Linked DNA regions of Homo sapiens: region 2 is linked to region 1. The links come from fine-mapping of genetic effects on gene expression. A gene starts in region 1. The other region holds a variant in brackets. All regions are shown on one strand. Distances are from middle to middle.

Region 1 (8,120 bases):
ATGATTTCCGCAGCCACCATCTCAATCCTATCTGTCCAGATCAGGTCCAGAAAACCTGCCTTCCTTCGTAACTTTCAGGGAAGTGTCTGCTCTGAACTCCACTGAGCCCCTGTACAATACTCAATCCTTCCTACTTCAAGTTACTCAAACTTAGTAACATCCTACTTACATGACAAGCTCCATGAGAACAGGGGCAACCAGCTTCTCACATATATTACACTCACCCCCATACAAAGCCTTGCACATACTGTGGCTCAATAAACACTTTCTAAATAAATGTTCCTGAGGCCGAAAGCCTCCCATACTATCCCTACCCTCCAAAGCCCACACCATGAGGGATGTTTTAAGCAAGCACCTTGAAGAGATGTGATTCTTGCATTAGAACTGAAGATTTTATTGGATATGCTCTGAGTTTTTTCCAACTCTGAGAATCTGAGTTAGGAAAAGTCAGAAAGGGACAGATGACGGGCAACATAGGCTTCCGGCTACATCTTCAATCAAGCTACCAAGGACTCCCTTGATTATGACCAGAAATCATGTGTCAGGGACTACATCTATTTATGCGTGCACGTATATGTATATACACTTACATGTATGTGTATACATATACACATATACATGTATATCTGCAAATGCATATCTATCTCTCTGTTCCCTCTGTAAGAAATTAAGCAGACAGGCTGGGCGCAGCGGCTCACACCTGTAATCCCAGCACTCTGGGAGGCCAAGGCAGGCGGATCACCTGAGGTCAGCAGTTTCATACAGCCTGGCCAACATGGTGAAACCCCATCTCTACTAAAAATACTCTACTAAAAATTAGCTGGGCATGGTGGCAGGCACCTGTAATCCCAGCTACGAGGGAGGCTGAGGCAGGAGAATTGCAGGAACCCAGGAGGCGGAGGTTGCAGTGAGCCGAGATCGCACCACGGCACTCCAGCCTGGGAGACAGAGTAAGACTCTGTCTCAAAAAAAAAGAAAGAAATTAAGCAGACAAACATCTACAAGGTTTCTGAGGCCCTGAAGCCAGCGCAAGGATGTACAAATAACTAGGAGTCTCTTTCTTCCCCTGGTATATGAACGGGGTAAGGCAAATAATGCTCTACAGTAATGTTCCCCATAAAATACCAGCACACCTGCCAAGCAGTTCTACCTCCCTCAGGTATCAGCGTCTGACACCCTTTCAAGAAAGTGCCAAGTGGCCAAGCCCTGTTCTTGGAAGAAACGGGAGCTCATATGTGTGAGATGCTTTGAAGAGATGCTCACATACAGTGGAGGGGGAGAAGGAGAAGCATACTTTGGAACATTAAATATTAAATTGGAGGCCACCTGTCAATAGAAAAACTCTAAATAGAACTAGATTCATTTTAGAGAACCCAGGTTTCCAGGCTATACTTCCATTTCTCTGGAAAAAAAAAAAAAAGTTATGCCTACTTTTATACAAAGTAGAAGTCCATCTTCTTACCATATCCAGCTAGTGGCAAGTTCTCTGAGCTAACCTGAGGGTAAAGTGGATGGAGAGCTGGCTGAGAATGCCACACAGCAATCAAGCAAACACTTTGCCCAAGGGTCAAACTAAGTGGAACACTTGTTGACGGAAAAGTCGTGGCATAAACCATTTGTGGTCTCTCCCTAACTTTCTCAGTGTTTTTGAGCAGTAGAGAGAGGACAGGAACCACCAACACAAGTTTTTCCTACCATCACTAGGTTTCTCACCACTGTACCTGGGATATTCTGCTTCTTTCCTTCCTAACCTATCTCCGTCAATAGCATGGCATCTTCTGCCCTTTATGTGCAGCCAATCACCACCCAAGAGAGGCAGAGATCTAACTATCCAAAAAATGCATTCAGACAGATAAAACAAGAGCCAGTGCAAAATGAAACACATCAGCGCCGCTCAGGAAGCTTCCAGGACCAACCACAAACACTCTTTTTCAATTTACAGACAGGTTTTTTCCTTTTTCACCTGACTACTGACTCGCCCAACTTGGGATAACCACCAGTCAGAAGCTTTTAAATGCATGTATCTCATGCCAGGGGGCCAGGTGTAAACCAAGGCCAGTTGAAAACCGGCGCCATTTAATGAGATGTGGGTTTAAATGGGCCTATTTCTTTTTAACCTACCATTGCAGAGCAAGAAGTGAGCTTGGAAGCCTGCAGTTTAGCGATTGTCACCGACCCCTTTTCTAAAGTCAAGGCAATTAGGCCCATGACTGTTAAAAGTCTATCTCAAAGCTCCTGTCCTGCGCACATCAATCACAGTCACGGCTGAAAACAAACACAGAATTTTAAAAATTTCTTTATCCACACCCAAGGACAAGTGTGAGGGCAGCCGAGAAATCATGGCGACAGGAACAGCCGGTGTCCAAGGGGGCAGCTGCTTCTGAGAACTGCTTTGAGACAGGGCAGAGAACCAACCCAAGGTACTTTTCTCTCCCAATGTCTCTCCCCCGGCTCATTCACCATATTTCGGTCCAACAAACTGTTTTTCTCCTTTGAGAGGTTTATGGCGAGGGCAAGAGGGGCCGAAGGGACGCGAAGGGGCGACGCCAGGGATTTGTTGCTACACGTAAAGCTGGAAAACGTGCAGCTGTTTACTACCAGCGCCCCGGAGACGCCGAGCGCAGCTTGCAGCTGAGCGCTCCCCTCGGGCCCCGACCCCGCCTCCCCCACTGTGCCTGCCCCTCCGGCTTTGGAGGCGACGCGCCACCTGCCCTCCCCGACGCGCTCGCCGGACGCCGAGCCGCCCAACCAACACCGCGCGGGCCCCCACGGCATCAGCTCGGTCTCCCCTCAGCCCCCGCGCCCACGCCGCGCGCCGCCCACACCAAGTTACCTCGGAGGCCCGGGTTGTCGTCTCTGGCCCGAATCTTTCGGATTTTGACGGGGCGCCCGCTCAGGGTAGACAGGACCAGACGTTGGCGCAAGAAGTTGCACCCTGCGTAGCTGAGGGAGTGCGCCTGAGTCGCCATGTGCGCGCTCTCCGAAGAGACGTGAGCAGCCCGAGAGCGGCGACTTCGGACAGACGCGGGACTCGTGACTCCGATGGTGGTGGTGGCGGCGACACCGACGGCGGCGGCTCGGGCTGCCTCCAGCAGCCCAGACGCGTCCACGTGGTTTGGAACAGGAAGACGGAGAGACTAGACACCGGGTCAGAGGGGAGCGGGGCGGAGCCAGTGGCCACCTCCCCGCCTCCCCGCCCGACCGGGGCGGCCCCCGCTTCGGGCCACGCCGCTATTGGCCCGCGCCGGATCAGGGCGGTGCCCGCGCCGCGCCTCCATTGGCTTCCGCTGAAGCTGGGCGGTGCCCAAGCCGCGCTGCCATTGGTCCGTAGTGGAGCTGGGCGGTGCCCGGGCCCTGGCAACAGCGCGCGGCTGGAGGGAACGCGGGAGGATGGCCAGGGAACCCCGGCGCGGGAGTTGCCAGTCGGGGCAGTCTCCTCTGTGTACCTCCTGGCGTGGTAGCAAGGGGAGATGGCGGACTGAGATTGATGCCTACGACGTGCCGGATTCTTAGCATTACTACTTACGGCAACTACTGGGGTGAAGATGCTATTATCTACCCCTCCTCTTTCTTACTAAGAGAGACAACAAGGGTTGGTGCACTCACCCTATCGCAGGGATGCCGCTCAGCGCACTGCCGGCGCAGTCCCGCAGCTCCATGCTGTAACCCTGCAAGGTAGAGCCATCCTGTCCTACTCATGGATAAAGGCTCGAGGAATATTGCAAAGCTGACAGTGGCAGCCTATACTGAGACCCGAATCCTCCCACAGCAGGCCGTTGCTTATTTTATTGAGACACCTCTTTGCCCCTTTCTCACGGGTCCCTTCGTTTATCGTCATTGCGTTTCATGGCAATTCAGGCCCTCCTACCTCGCATGCTTCAAGATAGATAGTTGTAATAACTTCACACACACACACGCGCGCAATGCTTTTTCCCTCTTTCCCGTCCTCCTCCAATCCTGCACAAGAAAATCTTCCCAAACGTTGGATTATTTCACTTCTCTACTCAAAAACCTTCCAAAATGTACAGTTAACTAACAAATGACTACACAAGTAGAAGTCCGATATCATAGTAATGTGGGTTTGTAGCCATTCCTGGACAACACTCACCAAACCATGAGTCCCAGAATGCACGGGGGTTCGCGGGGGGAAGGGGGGCGGGGTATGATAGTGTCTGAAAGCGGTGGGAGTTTAAGATTAAGGGATGTAGCTAGCCTTATGTAGACAACAGTGTGTTATAAAGTGGAGTGGAGTGGCATGCTCATGACTCACTGCAGCCTCAACTTCCCGAGTTCTAGTAATCCTCCAACCTCAGCCTCCCCATTAGCTGGAACTACAGGTGTGCACCACCATGCTCAGCTAATTTTTGTATTTTGTATAGACATGGGTTTTTGCCATGTTACCCAGGCTGGTCTCAAACTTCTAACCTCAAGCGATTGGCCCACCTTGGCCTCACAAGTGTGAGCCACCACTCCCAGCCTTTAATCCATTTTTCTTTGATTTTTGTAAATGGCAAGAGATAGAGATCTAGTTTCACTCTTTTGCATATGGATATCCAATTTTCTCAGCATCATTTATTGAAGAGACTGTCCTTTCCCCAGAGTATGTTCTTGGCAACTTTGTCGAAAATGAGTTTACCGTAGCTGTGTGGATTTATCTCTGCGTTCTCCGCTCTGTTCTACTGATCTATGTGTCTGTTTTTATGCCAGTACCATGCCATTTTGTTTACTCTAGCTCTGTAGTATAATTTGAAGTCAGGTAATGTGATTCCTCCAGTTTTGTTCTTTTTGCTTAGGACAGGTTTGGCTATTCTGGGTCTTTTGTGGTTCCATATAATTTTTTTAATTTTTAATTTTTGTAGGTAGATGGTACATGTATATATGAGGTACGGGAGAAGTTTTGATACAGGCATGCAATGTGTGATAATCACATCCTGAAGGATAGGGTACTCATCCCCTCATGCATTTTATTCTTTGTGTTATTATACAAACAAAACAATTATACTGTTTTAGTTATTTTTAAATGAAAATTAAATTATTGTTGACTACAGACACCTTGTTGTGCTATCAAATAGTAGATCTTATTCTTTCTAATTTTTGTACACATTTATTATCCCCACCTGCCCCCCAACATCCCCACCCCCTCTATGTTTTCCAGTCTCTAGTAACCATCCTTCTACTCTCTATTTCCATGAGTTAAATTGTTTTGATTGTTTGATCCCACAAATAGGTGAGAACATGTGATGTTTTTCTTTCTGTGCCTGGCTTATTTCACTTAACATAATGATCTCCAGTTTCATCCATGTTGTTGCAAATGACAGGATTTCATTCTTTTTTATGGCTGAATAATACTATATTGTGTATATGTATCACATTTTCTTTATCCATTCATCTGTTGATGGACACTTTGACTGTTTTCAAATTTTAGCTATTGTGAAGAGTGCTGCAACAAACATGGGAGTGCAGATATTTCTTTGATATGCTGATTTCCTTTCTTTTGGGTATACACGCAGCAGTGGGATTGCTGAATCATATGGTAGCTCTATTTTTAGTTTTTTGAGGCACCTCCAAACTGTTCTCCATAGTGGTTGCACGAATTTACATTCCCACCAACAGTGTACAAGGGTTCCATTTTCTCCACATCCTCACCAGTATTTGTTATCGCCTGTCTTTTGAATATAAGCCATCTTAACTGGGATGAGATGATATCTCAAAATGAGTAGTTTGCAGATATGTTTTCTCACTCTTTGGGTTGTCTCTTCAGTTTGTTGATTGTTTCCTTTGCTGTGCAGAAGCTTTTTAACTTGATATGATCCCATTTTTGCTTTGGTTGCGTATGCTTGTGGGTTATTAATCAAGAAATTTTTGCCTAACCAATGTCCTAGAGATTTTCCCCAATATTTTCTGTAGCCATTTCATAGTTTGAGGTCTTAGATATAAGTCTTTAATCCATTTTGATTTGGTTTTTGTACACGGCAAGAGAAAGCAGTCTAGTTTTACTCTTCTGCATATGGATATCCAGGTCTCCCAGCACCATTTATTGAAGAGATTGTTTTTTCCCCAGTGTATGTTATTGGCACCTTTATTGAAAATGAGTTCACTGTAGGGTTATAGATTTGTTTTTGGGTTCTCTATTCTGTTCCACTGGTCCATTTGTCTGTTTTTATGCGAGTACCATGCCATTTTGGTTACTATAGTATTTTTTTTTAATTTTTCTTTTTTTTTTTTTTTTTTTTTGAGACAGAGTCTCACTCTGTCACCCAGGCTGGAGTGCAGTGGCATGATCTCAGCTCACTGCAACCTCCACCTCCTACGTTCAAGCGATTCTCATGTTTCAGCCTTCTGAGTAGCTGAGATTACAGGCATGCACCAACACATCCAGCTAATTGTAGTATAATTTGAAATCAGGTAATGTGATTCCTCCAGTTTTGTTCTTTTTCTTAGGATAGCTTTGGCTATTCTGGGTCTTTTGTGGTTTTATATAAATTTTAGGATTTTTTTTCTATATCTGTGAAGAATATTATTGGTATTTTAATAGAGACTGCTTTGGGTAGTATGGATATTTTACCAATGTTGATTCTTCCAACCTGTCAACATAAAATACCTTACTATTTTTTGTGGCCTCTTCAAAATCTTACATCAATATTTTATAGTTATCATTGTAGAGATCTTTCACTTCTTAAGTTCATTTCTAGGTATTTTATTTTCTTTTTAGCTATTGTAAATGGGATCACTTTCTTGATTTCTTTTTTGGATTGTTCATTGTTGGCATAGAGAAATACTACTGATTTTTGTGTGTTAATTTTGTATCCTGCAAATTTACTGAATTTGTTTATTAGTTCTAATATTTATTTGGTGGACTTTGGGTTTTTCTAAATATAAAATTATATCATCTAAAAACAAGGAAAATTTTTTCTTCTTTCTTTCCCCTCCCTCCCTCCCGTCCTTCCTTCCTTCCTTCCTTTTCTTTCTTTTCTTTCTTTCTTTTTTCTTTCCCCCCGCCTTTTTTTTTTTTTTTTTTTTTGAGACAGGATCTCACTCGGTCACCCAGGCTGGAGTGCAGTGGCATGATCATGGCTCACTGAAGCCTCAACGCCCCAGGCCCAAGTGATCCTCCCACTTCAGCCTCCCTGGTAGCTGGGACTACAGGCATGTACAGGCATGCTCCATCACACTCAGCTAATTTTTTAATTTTTTTGTAGAGATGATATTTCACTGTGTTGCCCATGCTTGTCTCAAAGCAATCTGCCTGCCTCGGCCTCCCAAAGTTCCGAGATTACAGGCATGAGCCACCCACACCCAAGGGTAATTAAATTTCTTCATTTCCTATTTGAATCCCCTTTATTTCTTTCGCTTGTCCAATTGCTGTAGCTGCAAACTTCCAGTACTATGTTGAATAAGAGTGGTGAAAGTGGGAATCCTTGTCATGTTCTGATCAAAGAAGAAAGGTGGCCAGTGTGGTGGCTCACACTTGTAATCCTAGCACTTTGGGAGGCTAAGGCGGGCAGATCACCTAAGGCTAGGAGTTTGAGACCAGCTTGGCCAACACGGTGAAACTCCATTTGGGTGTGGTAGCATGCACCTGTAATCCCAGCTACTGGTGAGGCTGAGACATGAGAATTGTTTGCATCTGGGAGGCAGAGGTTGCAGCGAGCTGAGATCGCACCACTGTACTCCAGGCTAGGTGACAGAGCAAGACTGTGTCTCAAAAAAAAAAAAAAAGATGAAAGGCTTTCAGTTTTTCCCCATTCAGTATGATATTAGCTGTGGGTATATCATATGTGGCTTTTATTATATTGAGGGATGTCTTTCTATACTCAGTATTGTTAGGGCTTTTATGAGGAAGCGATACTGGATTTTATCAAGTGCTTTTTCAGCATCAATTGAAATGATCATTTGATCATTTTTGTCCTTCATTCTCTTGCTATGATGTATTACATTACTTAATTTGCATATGTTGAACCACCCTTGCATCCCTGGGATGAATCACACTTGGTCATGATGAATGATCTTTTTAATGTGTTGTTGAATTCAGTTTCATTGAGAATTTTTGGATCAGTATTCATCAGAAACATTGGCTTGAAGTTTGCTTTATTTGATGTGTCTTTGTCTGTTTTTGGTAT
Region 2 (8,120 bases), 47 kb before region 1:
CAAACACAAATTTAAATCCCACATTGGTTTTACATGTAATTTTTAAAATGGGGCTTGGAGTTGATGGCCCACAGTCTACATCATGTCCATGTCTTTATCTACGTGTAAGGCTTCTACTCACCATTAGTAAGTATGGACTTGACCACACTCTAGGGTCAGCTGAGTCAGTGGTATAACAAAAAGCCACACTATAAGCTGGTGGCAGGATGGCTGTCAGGCCTGCTCTGCTTCATGCCAGGACACTTTCTGATAAAGCGAGAGGCAAAGCAGAGAAGGGACTATCGAGATGAAGCCATTTAGACAGCTTCTGCTGCTATCTGTCCTCCCCCATCCCTCGGAAATCCCCTTTCTCCAGAAAATAGCTGACACATAATTCCAGACCTGTGGCCAACAAGGGAGAGTAAAGGAAAGAACAGCATCAGGAGCTACCATTTCTGTAGGACTTACCATGTGACAAGCAAGGTATTAATGGCTTATATGTGTGATCTTTACAATAACCCCAAAACATAGGCATCATCACCCTCAATGCATAAATGAGGAAAATACTGTTGTTACTAGAATATAAACCAAAGGTTTAGGAACATCATTGACTTTTCCAAGCCAGAAAGTCCAGCTTTGCCCACAAATCCTTTCCCAACCCCAGCGTTATGACGCCACCAGCTTTGTTGCTTTGGACTATGAGCCTCCACTGTATTTCTAAAACTACCTTCATCTTTCCATTGGGCCTTATAAAGGTCAAAGGTTGTATAAAACACTCACCCCCCTCCTTTACTCTCTTTTCCTCTTTTTGCTGAAATTAAAAGAAACCACAGGTGAAACAGCTGTGAAAAAGGATCAGCTGTGGCATCACTTAAGAAGAAGTTGACTTCTTAACCTACAACAGTTAACCCCAGACTCTAATATTCTTATTTTTAGGAGACACAACCTGCAAAGCCTCAGATGTGAAGTGAAATGATGCCCATTCACACTGAAATGATTCAGTAAAAAACAAAAACAAACAAAACCCACAAACAAGTGAAGCAAATTTGGCAAAATATTTATCGTTAACTATAGGCAGCAGGAGTATATCTCCGTGTTCACTGTACTATTCTTTGATCTTTTCTGTATGTTTAACACTTTCCTATTTTAAGAAAGTGGCTTTAATTGCTTCTCTAACTTCCTAGTTGCTAAATACACAAGCAAAGCCTAAAACAGGTATCTTCATTACATAGAGCATCATTTTTTAAGAACTTATTTTCCTTACTTAGAATTTTTTTCTAATTTTTAAAATTTTTATTTTTTAGCAAAGCAAAGGCTTTCACTAAACCAAATTCACGTCTGCAATAACAACTTTCTCTGGATGTAAATATGTTGTTTCCACTGATGAAGAGAGATGCTGACTTACACTTAGATAACAAAAGATTTTAACCCTATACTGTTATTTACTCAGGGTGGAAGAACCTGTCCACTTTAATTTTTTTGTTGGAACAGAGTGCAGATGGAATTTAAAGCCTAAAGCATTGTGTATTAATAGATAAAGGTTTTAATTCCCCAAGGCTAGGAACCAGACCCTTAGCTTCCAGCTCTAGCCACTGGGATGCTTTCCATGTGACAGGCACTCAAGAAATGCCTGTTGGTGACAACGGCAATAAGGCAGAAAGAAATTAATTCTGAAATTGTTCTTCCTCTGGCTGCGCAACCTCAGAGCTGGCAGTTTTAACTTCAACTAGAACAGGCATGTGAAAAAGCTGCAGAAACAGACTTCAAAAACACAGATACTTACTTCCCAGAGTTGACTCCTTTCATGTGATCTGTGTAAATATAGATATCAGGTATGAACTTGTTGAGGATGCTCCTTGCAGAATCCACAATCCGGTTCGCCATCTGAGGTGACACACGTACAGAGTACCTGCAGCCTGGAGTTAAGGATGTCATTCTGCTTGAATTCCAGGACAGAGAAAAATCAGTTATAAAGCTGGCAAGTATTTGTGGAACTGTAGTAACAAACTGGGACTTCCAAATCTATTGTTTTCCAACTGAATTTACTGAATTAGTACCATAATTAAATTTTTTTCATTATTATAAAAGGTCATGGCAAAAACACCCAAACAATAGAGACAGTGGAAAGTATAAAGCTGGAGGTCCTCAACCCCACCCCCTGACTTCCTACCCACACGCTTCCCCTAGAAATGGTTCAAGTCAATTTTGGAAGGTGTAAAGACACCTGCCTCTCTGCGGGTCATGATCCAGGCTCCCTCTGAAGCACAACACCTAAGAACACTTTCTATTCTCTGTCCATTCCCACTGCTGTAGCCAATGAGTCTCTCTCTTAAGAACCTAAGCCCAGAACAGACACCACACAGGACCTGGGCGATCCCAATCTGACTCCTGGTATGCTGATGGGAGAAGCAGAAAAAGTTCAGTGAAAGAACATGGTTGCTGCTATTTATAAATATATAAAAAGGTTTTTCTCATTTACAGGGCCTATTTTCTACTATTTAAGAATTAATTACTCCACTTGTGGATAACACAGCCTCCTCACACCTGCTACCTTATGGTTAAAATATTGATAATTAGCACTCCTACAATAGGGCACCCCAGAAAAGAAAGGAGGAAGATATTAGTAACTCAAGTGAAAAGATTGGTGCTTGAGGAAATGGAAATTATTGCCTAAAACTAGACTTTATAACAGAAGCTGGCATTCCCCAACCACACATGTCAAAGAAAAAGTAAGTATGTATTGAGCACTTCAATGTGCAATGTATGGTCAAGAGATGGCTATATATTTGGAACTAAAAAAATGGAGAAATAACATGTGACCTTCCCACTACCCTGATACAAACCCCACGTGACAAGTCCAACAGGTAGAACGAGGTATATAATCTGCCCAATCCAGCCCAATGTTCAAGAACTGCTGACAATAACATATTTAATTTTCATCTGAACTGCAGAAACAAAGTGCTCAGAGACGATACATGACCTGATCTGGTATCTAGCTCCCTTTTTTGACCCATCCTGAACTTCATACTAAAAGACCAATCTTCCTCATGCTGGTGACAGTCTCTCGGTGGCTCCTGGTCCTCCCATATCTTGTTGTTAGAGCCCCCAGCCTGCTCAGTTGTGTCCATCTTCAGCTCTGCACCATCAACTCCTTCCACCCATCCAAACTGACCAAATTCCTCAACCTGAGCTGCTTTGCCCCATTCTCCCAGCCCGAGGTCCCAATCTCTCTCCTGAAACCCTCCAGCCGGCACCCAAGTGTTAGCTCCACTTGAACTTACCATACATCTCTCTTCACATATGCACATTTTGTTCTTGCTCTTCAATGAGACCACACACTCTATAAGGGCAAGGGCTTTACCTCTGTAATCCCTCCCAACTCTCCAATACACCACTTTTGTACTCAGAAATGCTCAATAAATATTTAACTTGACTCAAAGGACAAACCTGAAATGAGGAAAGAGCAAAGAGGGATTTTTCAATACACACACAGCCCAGTTACATCACCATCTCTTCAGTCCAGAATGTACTTTTGACCACAGACAGCTTAGACAAACAGTCCTGAATCTCATACCCTTTGGACCAAGCAGGTGCTGTCCTTCTGAGGTCTGAGGCTGCCCACTGTCCCC[A/G]GGAAAGCACAAGAGATGTCACCATCCTAGCACATAATCCCACAGAGCTCACGGCTCCCAAAGTTCTTTCACATCTATTATCACCTTACTTTATGCTCACAGTAACCCTGTGTTGAGGGCCATGGCTCCGAGTTCTAGGACTTACATTAAAGACAACTAAGACAAAAAAACTAAGACACTTGCTCAAAATTAAACAGATCTGACTCCCAAAAAGCATCTTCCTCCTCTCACCCATCCCAATACAAAAACACGAAGGTTAACAAACAGTACGAATTCAGGGCCTACAGAATCCTATACTAGAACTCAGGCAATGAAATGAAGAAGGCAAAGGAACTTTAAAGCCAGTTGCTTAGAACCATCTGGCTTGGCATGGATGTCCTACTAAGGAATGGCTAACAGCCCCCAAGTTCTAGAATCAGATTATCTCCGTTCAAGTCCAAGCTCCAGCAAGCTGCATCACTCCAGGTTAATTGTGGTAACTTCTCTGTGCTGTCATTTCCTAATCAGTAAAAGAAGGATAATCATAACACTTTCCTCACAGAGTTTGGAGGCACAAATGAAATAAAATGCATGTAAAGCTCTTAATGCCTAGTGTGTAGTAGGAGCCCAACAAATGTCAGCTATTGCTTTTCTTTATTACTTATCCAAGATTCAAATCCCAAGCAGAGGTTCTTATTCTTTCAAGAATCAGAGAACTCTCTGAGAATCTGATGAAAGCTATGGACCCTCTCCTGAGAAACATATATACTCACAATCTTGCAGAAAATTTTTCAGGTTTATGAACCTCCTAAAGCCCATTTATGAAAACCATATTAAGAACCAATACCAATGTACAAGTCCATAGCTACAGTCCATATGGGACTCCCACTCTTCCCCTTCCCCAATGTTCCATGTCAGAGAAAGCTAAGAGGGGTGTGTGTGTGTATGTTACAGTAGGTGGAGAGAGAGCTTGATTCTCAAAGTACCTTTCCTACAGTCAAGGAAAAGAAACTAGATTATCCCACGAATTCCAACTTATCCCCCTTTACTGCCAGCTTTTTCACTTAATTCTCATGTACCAAATCATGAGCTCCTAGGACAGCACTGCAAAACTAAAACAGAATGTTCCTTTCTCTTACGCCCCACATAAGGCAGGGGTGAGAAAGAGTGGGTGGCATTAAGTAAAAGGTAACTACTGTGTAGTCACAGCTGCTGGCAGGAACCAACACCAGCTCCCTCTGGGCCCTGGCTGGTAGGTCATCTTGTAGAACGCAAGAGGGAAAAGATGCACTTTGGAAGTAATTCAGTTAAAACCACAAATGCACACAAGAGAGTGGGCCTCTTTCTCCCAGTCTGAGCCCTCCCATGGGAAATACAACCTCCAAGCTTAGTCCAGTAGTCAACCAGCCTTGCAAGGAAAAAAACCACAAAACCAACTCAAGCTTTTTCCAAAGGCAGCTCTTTTTTCCCAGGCTCCAAAACTGGAGAAGAGGGCGATCTCCATTCAAACCAACATTCCTTTGAGGTGTTTGTGAAATGGGCAGCTCTGCAGAGCAGTGGCTGAAATGTTTGGTTAACAGACAGGGATCTGAGAAAGGGCACTGTGTCAACTCTCCTGGGGAGCCAGGAGGAAGCCTCAACCAGTCAGAGATATATTGGGGATGATTTCCATGTCCTATCCCCTGCCTCCAGGGAGGGAGGAACTTGGGACCTCACAAGTCTCTTCCTGGCTCAGATTCTACACAGGGAAGGTTCCAAGAACATTAGAGGGAGAAGCCAGGGAGGAACATAGTTACACCCAAGGTGCCCGGCACTACAGCTCTTTTAACTTTTATGTTCTCCCCTGGAAAGCCCTTCCCCATTTCCCAGCATCATCATCAAAGGACACGACCATCTGCACACCCAGAGAGAACAAGGGGGACCCCACTGTGATGAAACCCATGTTGTTATGACAAGATTGTGTCAAAACAGAGCACACTGCCAGAAATCACATTTCCAGACTACAGAGACTGGATTCCAAACAAAGTTCACGGCCGCCAATACAGCATTAAGGAAACACATCTCAAATAAGGAGGAAAAAAAACAACTACCCCCCAGACAAACCCAAAATAGTACTGAAAGTGTATTCCTGTACACTTATTGGAATGTATTGGAAAGTGTATTCCTATACACTTATTACACTTTTTTTCACCATTGCCAAAAATGTTGTGGTTAAAGCCATTAACCGCAGTGTATTTGGCAACAGTGAAAAGCAAAAAACAACTCAATGGCCATCAACAGGATTTGATTTTGGGTTCTATATATGGTGGAATACAATGCATCTGTTAATAAGAATGAATTCAAGTAGAAAAGGCACATTTGGTTTCAAAAACACACACCTAGTTACATTGCATTTCCATTTCTTTGTAACCTAATTAACCTTATTCCAGCTCCTCGGATTTGGATACTAGAGTTGAATATCACCTTAGAAAGTCACCTGGGCAATGTAACTATGCATCAACCTGGGGGCTCCTAGGAAAGGAACCATTTCTCCTTTTGCCTGTTCTCTCCTGGTACACACAAGGCTGGGCGCTTACATGGGCTGGGGGACAGCCATGCAGAGAACAGACCATAACCCAGGAAGGCTTTGTTATTATGTATTCCTGTGGTTTTGATGATCCTTAAAAAGAACTTCAGGCAGCAACCCAAGTTTGAGCTTCTATCTTAACCAGCACTCTCTCTGCACATGGCTCTGCAGCCCACCCTACTCCCTGCCCTTCACCACTTACTGTTCAAGCTATTCGAGGCCTCTGAAAAGACAGTCCACGCTACACCTTTCTTCCTCCAAGTAATACCATTGCCAAACCTCCTGAGAACACAAAACCCGACCTTAAGCACCCACCCCCGCCCTGACAAGCAGGCTTTCTGGTCTGCCCTCCTTGTCACACTCCCGCCAGGAAAGTCATCCCACAGCCTGTCTTGCTCTACGGCCTCCAACACCTGCTCCCACCCAGATCCTGTCAGCACCTAGAATTTTACCACTTTTAATATCTGAAATCCCAAAACAAAACTCCCTAAACACAATCTCTTGTCCTACACAGTACATGTATCTATTTCCACTAGATCTGATCTTTAAGCCTGTTAAAGTTTCTCATCCCTTGACCTGCTTTGTCCAGGCTGGTGAGCCCCTGTGACAATCCTCAGTGAGGAATGTACTTCCCAATGCTCCAGCACCCACCCTCCAACTGTCCTCCTGTAGGACCCACCCACCTTGCCAACCTGCATCCAACCTTGGATGAAATTGGTCCTCCCACGTTCTCTACTCCTCCCTCTAGGCTGCCAACTGCCACTGGATATAGCCACATGGCCATGCAGCTGGCACTGTGTTAACATTACACCTTCAGCAAGGACCTTACTGCTGGAACACAGCCTTTTTCTTATCTTCAGTTATGATGCTCCCCTGTGAAGGCACATCTTTACCATCCTTGTCACACTCTCTTATCCTACCCCGCCCATCCCCTTACCCTCAATCCCATCCTAACTCGGTAACAACTGAAAACTCATCCCAACCCCCTTCCACTCACCTCCACACAGCTCTACCTGGAGCCACCCTTACCGTATGCCTGTGGCCTTGAATCCATCCCCTCTCAAGTAAGAATAAAAAGAATAGTAGTAACCATTTACCCAATGCTACTTACACACCAGTGCCTCCTACTGTGCAACTACGATCTCATTTTACCTTCATGACAGTCTCGCACAGCAGTTATAACAGGACTAAAGATATACGGGCAACCAAGGCTTACGGCCAAATGCTTCCATTGGTAAGTGGCGCAGCCGGCGTCGGCACCCACGTCTTTCTGACTCCAGCACCTGGGCTTTTAATCAGCTCATTACTTTGCTTCATCTACATTAACAACCTACAAAAACACTCAAATCCTTACCAATCTTTTTGTAAAAGGGAGGGAGTCTCCCTGACTCTCGCTTCATCAAGTTACTCCCTCATCCTTCCTTCTCCTTCTCTTTCCTGTCAAGGTTCTGTAAAGAGTGGTCCCCACAAGCCGCTGTTTCCCTCCCCTTCACTCCACAACCCAGAATTAGTCCCTTGGGATAGGGATCCAGCACTCTTCCCCAGGGCATCAGTGACAGCCTGCTGCTGAGTCCCTCAGCTTTTCCCCCACCCCAATGCTAACTCCTCAGGGCCTTTTAAAGTGCTGACCTGAGCTTCCAGGAAGCTATGTTTTGTTTATTCTCTTCCCCACTCTTACTTCCCTCCTTACTTAACTCTTGCTTTCAAGTTTTGGTGGCCTCACAGGGTTCCACCCTCCTTTCTTTGCGTTCTGCATAGTATCTGATTCCAGCCACCTTCAGCTCTTCACTGGCCCCTGCCTGTCTTCATGCCCCATTCTACCATCAAATGCCATAGACCAACCTGAAATCTGGCCACACTTCATTACTTGCCACTCCCTAGAACCACTGTGCACTGCCACCTCTGCTCAGGCCCACTTTTCTGCCTGAAGCCCTCCTCCTTTCTTGCTCTACTTTGCAATCCTCTGT

The links. PIP is the estimated chance that this variant, and not a neighbour inherited with it, causes the effect.
Region 2: its variant is fine-mapped to the expression of RCL1 in Th1/17 cells (Schmiedel 2018, PIP 0.95).

The regions. Positions count from the first base shown.
Region 1 is chr9:4,787,941-4,796,060 of GRCh38, reverse strand. It overlaps RCL1 (RNA terminal phosphate cyclase like 1), which reads right to left and starts at 3,117. Exons shown (of 9, transcript NM_005772.5): 1 at 2,834-3,117. The coding sequence starts at 2,969. RefSeq lists enhancers at 2,367-2,866, 2,941-2,990, 3,811-3,860 and a silencer at 3,071-3,430.
Region 2 is chr9:4,835,000-4,843,119 of GRCh38, reverse strand. RCL1 (RNA terminal phosphate cyclase like 1) reads right to left here. Exons shown (of 9, transcript NM_005772.5): 6 at 1,763-1,888. Among named protein-coding and RNA genes, the nearest start is that of MIR101-2, 11 kb to the left of the region's middle. RefSeq lists a silencer at 517-811. The variant A/G (reference allele first, on the strand shown) is at 3,609.